Linked DNA regions of Homo sapiens: region 2 is linked to region 1. The links come from fine-mapping of genetic effects on gene expression. A gene starts in region 1. The other region holds a variant in brackets. All regions are shown on one strand. Distances are between the middles of the regions.

Region 1 (5,354 bases):
GACCCGGCGTGTGTCCTCCCCTCCCCCTCCCCAGGCTCTGAGGGCGTCGGGCGTCTGTCAGTGACCCGGTGTATGGCCTCCCCTCCCCCTCTCCGAGGCTCTGAGGGCATCAGGCGTCTGTCAGTGGGCCTGAGCACATGGCCTCCCCTCCTTGAGGCTCTGGTCTCACCTTCACCAGGACCAGGCTCTTCTCCTTGGGCCTCCCAGCTGACAGGTCCTGCCCGAAGCCCAGGTAGATGGTATAGCGTGGGGAGCCACGGCGCTGCCGTGCCCGGAATTCCACCAGCTCTGAAGAAGGGGACTCTGCTGAGTACCTGGCAGGCAGGTGCTCCCAAGGACCCCTGGAGACAGCCCCCCAGGCAAGGGCCTCACTGACCTTGGAAGAAGACTCTGAAGTCGAAGATGGGGGTGTCACAGTTCCGAGGCAGCAGGCAGGCTGGGGTGGAGGGGCTGGCGGAGCCTGGGGGTCCGCCCACCTCCCAGTACACCTTGCACTTGCCCATGCGCCGGGCCCACAGCTGTGGCCCCCGAAGCTCCAGGTGCAACCCAGGGGCCACGTGCCGCAGCAGTTCCTCCGTGTAGCGCAGCTGCTTCTGGTCCGGGAGCTCGGCAGGGCTGGGGAATGCTACCTGCTGGGGGTCTGTGGCCCGGACAGCTGGGTCTGGGGGGCCGTATAGGAACGTGCAGCTCGGGTGTCCCACCACCTTCTGCAGCACCGTGCGGCCCTTGTACATGATGGTCACGTCCAGCGCCCCTGGGCTGGGCTCTGTGTGGAGACCAAGCTGTGAGTGACGGGGGTGGGCGGGGACAGGCTGTGAGTGACGGGGGTGGGCGGGGACAGGATGTGAGTGACGGGGGTGGGCGGGGACAGGATGTGAGTGATGGGTGGGCGGGGACAAGCCGTGAGTGACGGGGGTGGGCGGGGACAGGCTGCCCCTTCCTGGGATGCACTCACCTTGCACCGCGGTGCAGGCGCTTGGGGAGGGTGACAGGTACGGCTCTGCCTGGTGCGGGGACTCTGGGGCCGCGGCCTCGCCTGCATCCGGAAGGGAATCCTGTGCTGGCACCTCATCCCTAGCCTCTCCCTGTGCCCCAGGCCTCCCAACCCCTACCCCTCTCACCTGTCGTTAGTGCCGCGGGCTGGGGCCCGGGGCTGGGGGTCGTCTCTACTGCCCACCCGTACAGCTCCCCAGCAGGGAGCCCTGGGCCTGAGGAGGGGAGGACAGTGGGAACGGTGGTCCCCTCCTAATTCTCCAGCTCCCCAATCCCCAGCCCCCTTCTAAAGTGTCCGTCCAGGTGCACTGGCCCCTCCCGCGCTCCCCCCCTCCCCGGGCACGCCCACACCTCCAGCACAGGCCCCAGTCAGGGGAAGCCCTTCTTGTCCCTCTCCAGGAGCCTTGGTTGGGACTGGATCTGCCCCCCATGACGCTGTCAGCAGATGGTCTGCCAGGCAGCTCTGTTGCACTGCCTGGAGCAGGAGGTCCCCCTTGTCACCAGCTGGGGCAGGGAGGGGGCCTGGGGCTTGGAGTCCAGCATGTGTGTGTGCCAGGAATGGCCCTGGGGGCCCACCCTGCAGGGAAAAGTCAGGGTGAACGTAAGCAGCTCCGCGGCCTGGCAGGAGGAGAGGCAGGCAGAGAGAAGGGTACCTGTGGTGGTGGGACAGCTGCGGGGGCCTCTGCCTCAGTCTGGTCCGTGCCTGGGCCTTCTGAGAGAGAATGGGGCAGGCGTTAGGCCCCGACACCAGAGTGAGAGATACAAGGAGAGCCTGGTGTAGCCCCCACCAGCTTCCTGGCTGTGAACCCTTAGGCTGTGGCCTGAGGAGGTGGGGATGTGGCTCTCCACCTGTCCTGGGCCTGCTGGCAGCCTCTCCCAGAACAGCTTCTAAAACCACAAATCTGACCCAGAGAATGTTCCCCTTTGCCCAAGCAGGACGAATGCCAACGCCCTTGGCAGCCGGCGTCGCTCACCTCGCCAGCACAGCTCCCGGCTGAGCGCGTACACCTTGTGCGGGTCGGCCGGGTCCCCCGAGTTATCCCGCAGCATCACGAAGCGACGCGTGCTGCGCAGTGCGCAGCGGAAGTTGGTTTTCCAGCCGGCGCGCTCCGCAGTCTCAGCCTCGGGGGGCGGGCCACCTCCCCTGCTGCTAGGCGGCCACCTGCCGCGGGCCACAGCCCAGGCCTGAAGAGGGGGACAGAACACGTGTGCCGGGCCCGCGGGGTCCTAGGCGGGCTCTCCCACCCGGGGCGGGGCGGGGCTGGGGTCCCCACCTTGAAGATGCGCGCGTCGGCCTCGCTCAGGTCCTTGCGCGCGAAGTGCTTCCAGGGCACGCGGAAACAGGTGCGGGCCTCGTCCAGCCACTGCAGCCCCTCATAGCAGCCGCTGCTGATCTCTCCAAGGAGCCACTCTCCGAACAGCACGCGTGGGGCTGCCCTGCGGGTGCCCGGCCGCGGAGAGTCAGGGCCGGCTGCAGGGCGCTCGGGGACTGGCATCTGGAGAGGGTGGGCCGGGCTCTTACCTCTCAGGAGCCAAGGCCATTGCTCCTTCTGCAGGGGCAGTTAGGTGGCGGTCAGGTGTTATAACAGGGGAGGTAAGGGCTCCTGTCGCAGCAGACGCCAGGCCGCGGCCACAGGTCGTGTGGCCAGGTGTCACAGGTGTCCACAGGTGTGGACTGAGGGCTTGTAGCCACCGACGCTGCCTCGGTATGGATCTCTTGGCAGAGGGGGCTACAGGTGTGACTGCAGGTGTGGCCGGCGCGCACACATGAAGTCACAGGTGTTGAACCAGTGTCCAGGCCTGGCGGGAAGGCGCAGGCCGGACCCTGCGGAGACGGGAAAGGCGACGTCAGGGGCGGGTCAGGCTCCCGGGAAAGCGAAACCTAAACAGTGGCGCTTCGCACCCTCCTCGATCCCACCCCGTCCGGTTCTCAGCTCCGCGGAACCCCGCCTCCGCCTCCGCCTCCCTCCCCGCCCGACCCTCATCTCTCAGGCTCCCCCAGCTCTTGGCTCTACCCCTCCGGGGTCACGGAGCCCCCACGGAGGCTCTCGCTCCCGGCCTGCACCGCGTGGGTCTGGGGTCCCCAGTACCTGGGTGCCAGAGCCGCCGGGACGGGAAGTTTCGTCTCGCGGGGAAGCGGAGGGCCGGCGCTTTTATGGTGGCCAGGCGGGAGTTTCCGGGAAGGGCGCGCGCCGCCTGTTCTTATTATTGGATGCGACCAGCGGAACCCCGCCCCGGCCAGCGCGGAGTAGGGAGGAGTGGAGGGCGTTGGGAGTGGCTGCAGTGAGCCGAGATGGAGCCACTCCACTACAGCCCAGGGGACAGAGCAAGACTCAGTCTCAAAAAAAAAAGGAAGTGGGTAATGGGAGGTGGACGTGCCTCGAAAAAGGGGCAGCTGCACCGTTTGCGTTTCTTTTTTTGAGATGGAGTTTCGCTTTTGTTACCCAGGCTGGAGTGCGGTGGCACAATCTTGGCCCACCACAACCTCCGCCTCCCGGGTTCAAGTGATTCTCCTACCTAAGCCTCCCGAGTAGCTGGGATTACAGGCATGAACCACCACGCCCGGCTAATTTTGTATTTTTAGTAGAGACGGGGTTTCTCTATGTTGGTCAGGCTGGTGTCGAACTCCCGACCTCAGGTGATCTGCCCACCTCGGCCTCCCAAAGTGCTGGGATTTAGGCGAGAGCCGCCGTGCGCAGCCCCCTTTGGGTTTTTTACATTGTTCAGTCAAGAATATCAGATACTCTCACAATTAAAACATTTGGAAAGGAATTAATGGTGTATTTCCATTAGGGAAAGTGCTGACAAGCCGCAAGGGATCCCTTGATGGTTCTGGGCATGGGCGCCCAGCCTGGGCTCTGGCTTTGGGAGCAGCGAGGGGAATGTGTCTCTCACCCCTAGGCCTCCTGGTCTGGCTCCTGCTCAGGCCACACGGCGCACCCACCCCCAGCGCGCCTCAGTCCAGGTCACTGGGCAGGGTGTTTACTGCTGCGCTCCAACCCAAGCATGTAGATTTCAGAAGGGGACTAGGACCCCCGGCAGGTGTTTGAGACCACCGGCTCCCAAGTGCGTCGCCTTGGGGGTTTGCATCGGCTCCTCAGCCTCCCCAGGCAATCTCTGTGTAGGGTCGGGAGCGGGAGGTCTGAGATGAGCCGGGTGCCTGAGATCTCCGGTGCAGGTCGGGGGAGGGGAGCCCCCCTCGGGCTGTGGTTAGAGCGGGAGAGGAACTTCCCAGACTAGCTGGCACAGAGCCTCGGGAAGGCGGCGGGCACTGCAGGTGGTTTACGGGAAGTGCTGCAGCCTTGGGGTGGGGACAGCGTGGCCAGACCCACCGCCTCATCTGCACACCTGGGCTCAAGCGCTAATGACGACAGGGGACTGAGTGAATGGGACCCCCATGGACCCGCGCGCCTGCCCCACGCCATGGCCTGGGTTTCGGGAGCCTTGCTTTATTCTGCCTCGGGTCGGAGGCTGGGGGAGCGAGACCTCCAGTGCCCGTGCGGCTGGGGGAGAGGGTGGAGGGGCCACTTAGATGTAGGAGTCATCACCACCGGGCGCATCGTAGGGACCCCCACCCCTCCCCGCGCCCTCGCCCTCATCGCCGCTGCCGGAGTCACTGGCGCCATCCACGTCCAGGGTGGGCGCGTTGAGAACGACCACGTCTGCCTCCGTCCCGATGTCCTCGCCAAACCAGACAGCCTTGTACCCGCCCTCCGGCCGCCGCTCCTTGGTCAGGATGGACCTCACCGCCGTGGGGCTTCCGCCAGCTCGGGCCGCTGCGGGGGGCTCAGGGGCACCGCCTGGGGAGGCAGGGCCGGGGGGTGCGGGCTCTGCGGGCATCGGTGCCTCCGCGGGCTTGGGGTCGTGCGTGGGGCTGGGGACGGGCGCCCAGTTGGCCTTGTGGTCAGGGAGGAACGCCTGGTTGTCAAAGCCTTGGGGCTGGGGCTCCTGCAGGCGGGAGTCGAGGCGTCAGCGGGGTCCCTGGGTCTCTGCAGCCTTGGCCCTGCACACCCTCATTCCACGCTGGACACCCCTCCGTCTCCACATCTGTCCCTCTGCCCTCCCCTCTCCTGTCCCCCGTCCCCCACTTCCTGCCTGGTCGCCTGCCCTGTTCTCCATCCTGGGCCTCACCGGAGCTTTGCCACAGCAGCACTTGAGCCGGGGGCCATAGTGCTTGTGGACAAGGACGGCGAGGCCAAGGAGAGCCAGCAGCAGCAGCGCACCCAGCACCCCGCCCAGGGCCGCCATATCCACCACCGAGAAGCGCTTGTCCTCCGAGGGGCCGCCACCTGGCATCGCAGTGGAAAACGTCATCATCCCCGCACTGTTGAGTGCCCCAGGCATTTCCCATGCCAACCTGT
Region 2 (5,354 bases), 25 kb after region 1:
CTCGCGGGGAACTCGCTCGTGTGCGTGAGCGTGGCCACCGAGCGCGCCCTGCAGACGCCCACCAACTCCTTCATCGTGAGCCTGGCGGCCGCCGACCTCCTCCTCGCTCTCCTGGTGCTGCCGCTCTTCGTCTACTCCGAGGTGAGCCGCGTCCGGCCGCACGAGCATCCTCACCTGCTCCTCGGTTCCCCGTCCCTGTCCCTACGGAGGACCCGGCGCGACCCGGCCCCTTTCTGGTGCGGAGCTTCCAGCTGGGGCGGCGGCAGGGGCGCTGCGCCTTGTCCCTCGGCGATACACCCACCGCCGCCACCTCGCGACCTTCCACCCGCTGCGCTGTCTGTCCCCCGACCCTCGTTCCTCTTCTCCTTCCCCGTCTGTCTTGGCGTCTGTTATCCAGGAGATGCCCGTCCTTCTATCCAGGGACCCCGGAAACAGGCGACTTTGTCAAGCCCAGTCCCCTCCGTAGCTGGATTTCACCTCCAGGGCAGCCAGCTGGACAGACAGGCAGATGCAGGCTCAGCCCCCTGGCTGCCGTGGGACACACACACACACACACTGCCACAGCCACTGCCCACCACACACACCTAGTGCAGATGCTGGCACACCCCCAGAAGGAGGCTCACAGCTCGCAGGGGAGACCTGGGCTGGACAAAACCCAGGGGAGGGGAGGGTGTGTGGGGACCAGGCCCCTGCTGAGAACCCTGGGGGGAAGCCTGAGGGGGAATTGGGGGATGGAGCCCACACTCCACACCAGGTCTGGCCCTCGAGTGGGTCGGCCTTGGTGCCAGCCCCTCTGCGGCCAGAGAAAAGCAGCTTAGGGCTGAGCTGGAGACGCGGTGTCCCCGACTGTGGGGGAGGGGGACTCGAGGTTTCCCCTTGATGGACACAGTGAATCCAGGCGGCTGGGGCAGAGACCAGCAGCACGGGACACGCGTGACCTGTGCTCCTTTCGAGCCGCAGACGTCACAGTGACGACGTTTAAGCTCCTAATCTCCCCAAATCGGCGGGAAGGATTAGAGGGGCTGCCTGCTCCTTTGCCCTTGGAGAGAGTCACTCCACGTGGAGTCCTACGCTGGGCACTGGGCACGGTCTTCATATTTTTAATTATAATTTATCTTCAAGACAATTATGATGTGGATACTATCATCACCCTTGTCTTACAGATGAAGAAACAGAAATGAATTAACGTGCCCGAGTCTCCCACAGAGAACTTAGCCAACAGAGCAGCCAGCTTCGCTTCTAGGCCCAGCGGGGACCCTGCCTACCCCAGGCTGGGGAGGGGCTCCCTTTGAGCCCGATGATATCAGGCCCGCCCCCAGGGAATTCCCCAGGCCGTTCTCATGTTTGTAACAAAAGGGAGACCAAGGCCAGAAGCCGTGATTCACGCCTGTAATCCCAGGACTTTGGGAGGCAAAGGCAGGAGGATAGTTTGAGACCAGCCTGGGAAACATACCAGGCCTGGTCTCTACAAAAAATTTTAAAATATCAGCCGGGGGTGGTGGCTGCGGCTGTTGTCCCAGCTATTCGGGGGAGCTGAGGCGGCAGAATCGCTTAAACCTGGGAGGCGGAGGTTGCAGTGAGTTGAGATCTCACCACTGCACTCCAGCCTGGGCAACAAGAGCGAAACTCCGTCTCAAAAAACAAAAAGAAAAACAAATCAGCCGGGGGTGGTGGCGCGCGGCTGTAATCCCAGCTACTCTGGAGACTGAGGTGGGAGGATCGCTTGAGCTCAGGAATTCCAGGCTACAGTGAGCCATGATGGAGCCACAGCACTCCAGCCGCGGTGACACAGCGAGACCCTAACTCAAAACAAAGGGAGATCTGCGTGGGGAAGGGGTGTTTCCCTGCCCGGTCCTCTGGCCTCTGGCTCACAGCCGGGCCCCCTTCTCCGTATTCAGCCCTGGAACTACCCATAAGAGTGGGGGCGGGTCACAAGGGCCCGCGGTGGCTGGGAAACCTCAGGGCCTGTGGTGTCGCCGCGCAGGTCCAGGGTGGCGCGTGGCTGCTGAGCCCCCGCCTGTGCGACGCCCTCATGGCCATGGACGTCATGCTGTGCACCGCCTCCATCTTCAACCTGTGCGCCATCAGCGTGGACAGGTGCGCCGCCCTCCCCGCCCGCGCCCCGGCGCCCCCGCGCCCCGCCCGCCGCCCTCACCGCGGCCTGTGCGCTGTCCGGCGCCCCCTCGGCGCTCCCCGCAGGTTCGTGGCCGTGGCCGTGCCGCTGCGCTACAACCGGCAGGGTGGGAGCCGCCGGCAGCTGCTGCTCATCGGCGCCACGTGGCTGCTGTCCGCGGCGGTGGCGGCGCCCGTACTGTGCGGCCTCAACGACGTGCGCGGCCGCGACCCCGCCGTGTGCCGCCTGGAGGACCGCGACTACGTGGTCTACTCGTCCGTGTGCTCCTTCTTCCTACCCTGCCCGCTCATGCTGCTGCTCTACTGGGCCACGTTCCGCGGCCTGCAGCGCTGGGAGGTGGCACGTCGCGCCAAGCTGCACGGCCGCGCGCCCCGCCGACCCAGCGGCCCTGGCCCGCCTTCCCCCACGCCACCCGCGCCCCGCCTCCCCCAGGACCCCTGCGGCCCCGACTGTGCGCCCCCCGCGCCCGGCCTTCCCCGGGGTCCCTGCGGCCCCGACTGTGCGCCCGCCGCGCCCAGCCTCCCCCAGGACCCCTGCGGCCCCGACTGTGCGCCCCCCGCGCCCGGCCTCCCCCCGGACCCCTGCGGCTCCAACTGTGCTCCCCCCGACGCCGTCAGAGCCGCCGCGCTCCCACCCCAGACTCCACCGCAGACCCGCAGGAGGCGGCGTGCCAAGATCACCGGCCGGGAGCGCAAGGCCATGAGGGTCCTGCCGGTGGTGGTCGGTGGGTTCCTGTCCTGAGGGGCGGGGAGGAGAGGAGGGGGGGGGTACGAGGCCGGCTGGGCGGGGGGCGCTAACGCGGCTCTCGGCGCCCCCAGGGGCCTTCCTGCTGTGCTGGACGCCCTTCTTCGTGGTGCACATCACGCAGGCGCTGTGTCCTGCCTGCTCCGTGCCCCCGCGGCTGGTCAGCGCCGTCACCTGGCTGGGCTACGTCAACAGCGCCCTCAACCCCGTCATCTACACTGTCTTCAACGCCGAGTTCCGCAACGTCTTCCGCAAGGCCCTGCGTGCCTGCTGCTGAGCCGGGCACCCCCGGACGCCCCCCGGCCTGATGGCCAGGCCTCAGGGACCAAGGAGATGGGGAGGGCGCTTTTGTACGTTAATTAAACAAATTCCTTCCCAAACTCAGCTGTGAAGGCTCCTGGGGGCTGATGGGGAGTGGGGAAGAGGGGTTTCTGCCTCAGTGGCCCCAGGCCCCCCAGCCAGTTAACCTCTTTCTCCCCGCCAAGGAAGCCCACAGAGCAGACCCCACCAAGCCGGCCGCCTGCTCAGGGTGAGGGGGGAAGGGGCCCCCGAGAGCCACTCAGTTC[C/G]GCAGCGCTGGGGCCCAGCTTCCCCTCTCTGCAGGGGAGAGGAAGCAGCACCCAGCAGGGCAAGGTGTCTCCTGGGGAAGCCCAGTTCCGATGGGAAGAAACAAATGGGGAGAGGCGGGGTGGGGGGCTGTCAGCCGCCAGGCCCTGCCCGGGCCAACTCCCACCTCTGAGAACCAGGCACAGGGGGCTCCAGGCTCATGCTGCCCCAGCAGACCCCGGCAGGGGAGCCCAACCTGTCATTTTAGAAGCTGCCTTGAGGCCAGAGCCTAGCTTCCTGCCAGTCCCTGGCCAGAGGATGCCCCAAGCCCCACAGCAAGGGGCCTGTGGTGATGGGTGGGGCCCCACCAAGTGGCTTCCCTGGAGGGAGCTCCGTGCTCAGTCACCCCTGGTGCCCAGCCAACCTCTGCCCAGCGTCCACCAATGTGGCTGGGCCAAGGGGTGGGAGCAGGGAGGCGGCAGCGGGGCCAGGGGCTGGGCAGAGCGACCCAAGCTGCCTGTCTGCACCCTGGCTCCATCAACCAGTGCAGCCCCTGACCCTGGGGGAAGAGGGGCGGCTCCCAGGGCCCTCCATGCAGGAACAGCCTACCCTGGACTGGATCCAGCTCTCTCCCAGGCCCAGGTTGTGGGAGAAATGGGGGACCCTCCGCCTCCCAATCGTGCTGGCTGGAACTTTCCTGTGCTGGGGATTCGGCGTTTGCAGCCAGGGTGGCCAGTCAGGGTGCCAGGCTCCCATCTGAACACTGACAGACTGTGGGCTGTGCAGTCTACAGCATTGGGCACAACCTCAGCTTGCTAAAATACTCAGTGCAGGCTGGGTGTGGTGGTCACGCCTGTAATCCCAGCTACTCGGGAGGCTGAGGCAGGAGGATCCCTTAAAGCTAGGGAGTCAAAGCTGCAGTGAGCCGAGATCGTGCCACTGCACTCCGGCCTGGGTGACGGAGACCCTGTCTCAAAAAAGAAAAGAAAACGAGTATTGGGTGGAGAGAGGACCAAGCCCAATTACTACTTTAGTGCGGCTGCCCCGTCCCGTCTGGTGACCACGCACTTCTGTGATGGCCTCAGCGGCTGCCTCCTCCAGGACACCTTCTCCGACTACCTGCTTCCCAGGACCAGCCTGTCCCAGTCACCCCCGGAACAGACTGAGTCACAGTGGATTCCTCTCAGACACCCGTGAGAGTGAAGGAGGGGCTCCCGCCAGCTTTGTCCCAGGACCCACAGCCCCACACGTGCCTGACAGCGCTGGAGGCCATGGGAGGTGCACATGCATCTGGGGGTCCTGGGGGTGCTGACAGCCCTGGGGCAGGGCGACCTCTGACCATCAGCCTCCCAGGCTTGGAAAGGAGGAGCTGTGGAAACCTGGGATCCCAACAGACGCGTGGTGCTTGGCTTCTGTTTTACGGAAAGTTGGGGAAGAGTAAGTGGCCCCCACAATTCCAGGGAATACCCCCACTCCATTCCTGCAGGGCCTGGCGCAGGAAGCCAGGTGGCATCACTGCTGGCGGGGGTCACTGTGCCAGAGGGCTCCCACGGTGCCTCCCCCACCAGGCAGGGGTTCAGCTACTTCCTGCAGCTGTGCTCTCTGCAGAGATGCTGGTGTTCTCAGCTTTGGGGGATTATTCTTAAGAGGTGCAGGTCCTCAATTGCCTGCCACCTTTATGTTGGTTAAAACCCAAAGGAGCAGGCCCAGCCCTGCTGTCTCATGGAGGTCAACCCACGGCCCGCCTGCCTGGACAGGGCAAGGCCAAGCAGGGCCTCTGAGATGCCTCCACCTTGCGGCAATGGCAGACCCTGCTGGGTTGGATGAAAAGCCATTGTAGAGTCTCAGAGGAAGGGCCAGGCGGGCTGAGGGTCAGAGGAAGGGCCAGGCGGGCTGAGGGTCACAGGAAGGGCCAGGCGGGGTGAGGGTCACA

What was found. PIP is the estimated chance that this variant, and not a neighbour inherited with it, causes the effect.
Region 2: its variant is fine-mapped to the expression of IRF7 in whole blood (TOPMed, PIP above 0.99).

The regions. Positions count from the first base shown.
Region 1 is chr11:612,830-618,183 of GRCh38, forward strand. IRF7 (interferon regulatory factor 7) reads right to left here and starts at 3,121. Exons shown (of 11, transcript NM_001572.5): 1 at 3,084-3,121; 2 at 2,516-2,818; 3 at 2,268-2,430; 4 at 1,968-2,178; 5 at 1,647-1,705; 6 at 1,345-1,570; 7 at 1,122-1,208; 8 at 956-1,036; 9 at 377-766; 10 at 170-288. The coding sequence starts at 2,535. CDHR5 (cadherin related family member 5) reads right to left here. Exons shown (of 15, transcript NM_021924.5): 14 at 5,125-5,282; 15 at 3,754-4,941. The coding sequence ends at 4,522. RefSeq lists enhancers at 1-199, 794-1,388, 1,983-2,577.
Region 2 is chr11:637,449-642,802 of GRCh38, forward strand. DRD4 (dopamine receptor D4) reads left to right here. Exons shown (of 4, transcript NM_000797.4): 1 at 1-141; 2 at 1,985-2,097; 3 at 2,200-2,858; 4 at 2,953-3,258. The coding sequence ends at 3,155. Among named protein-coding and RNA genes, the nearest start is that of DRD4, 2.9 kb to the left of the region's middle. RefSeq lists enhancers at 242-776, 777-1,310, 1,311-1,845, 1,846-2,379, 2,745-3,356 and 3 more and a silencer at 5,201-5,354. The variant C/G (reference allele first, on the strand shown) is at 3,445.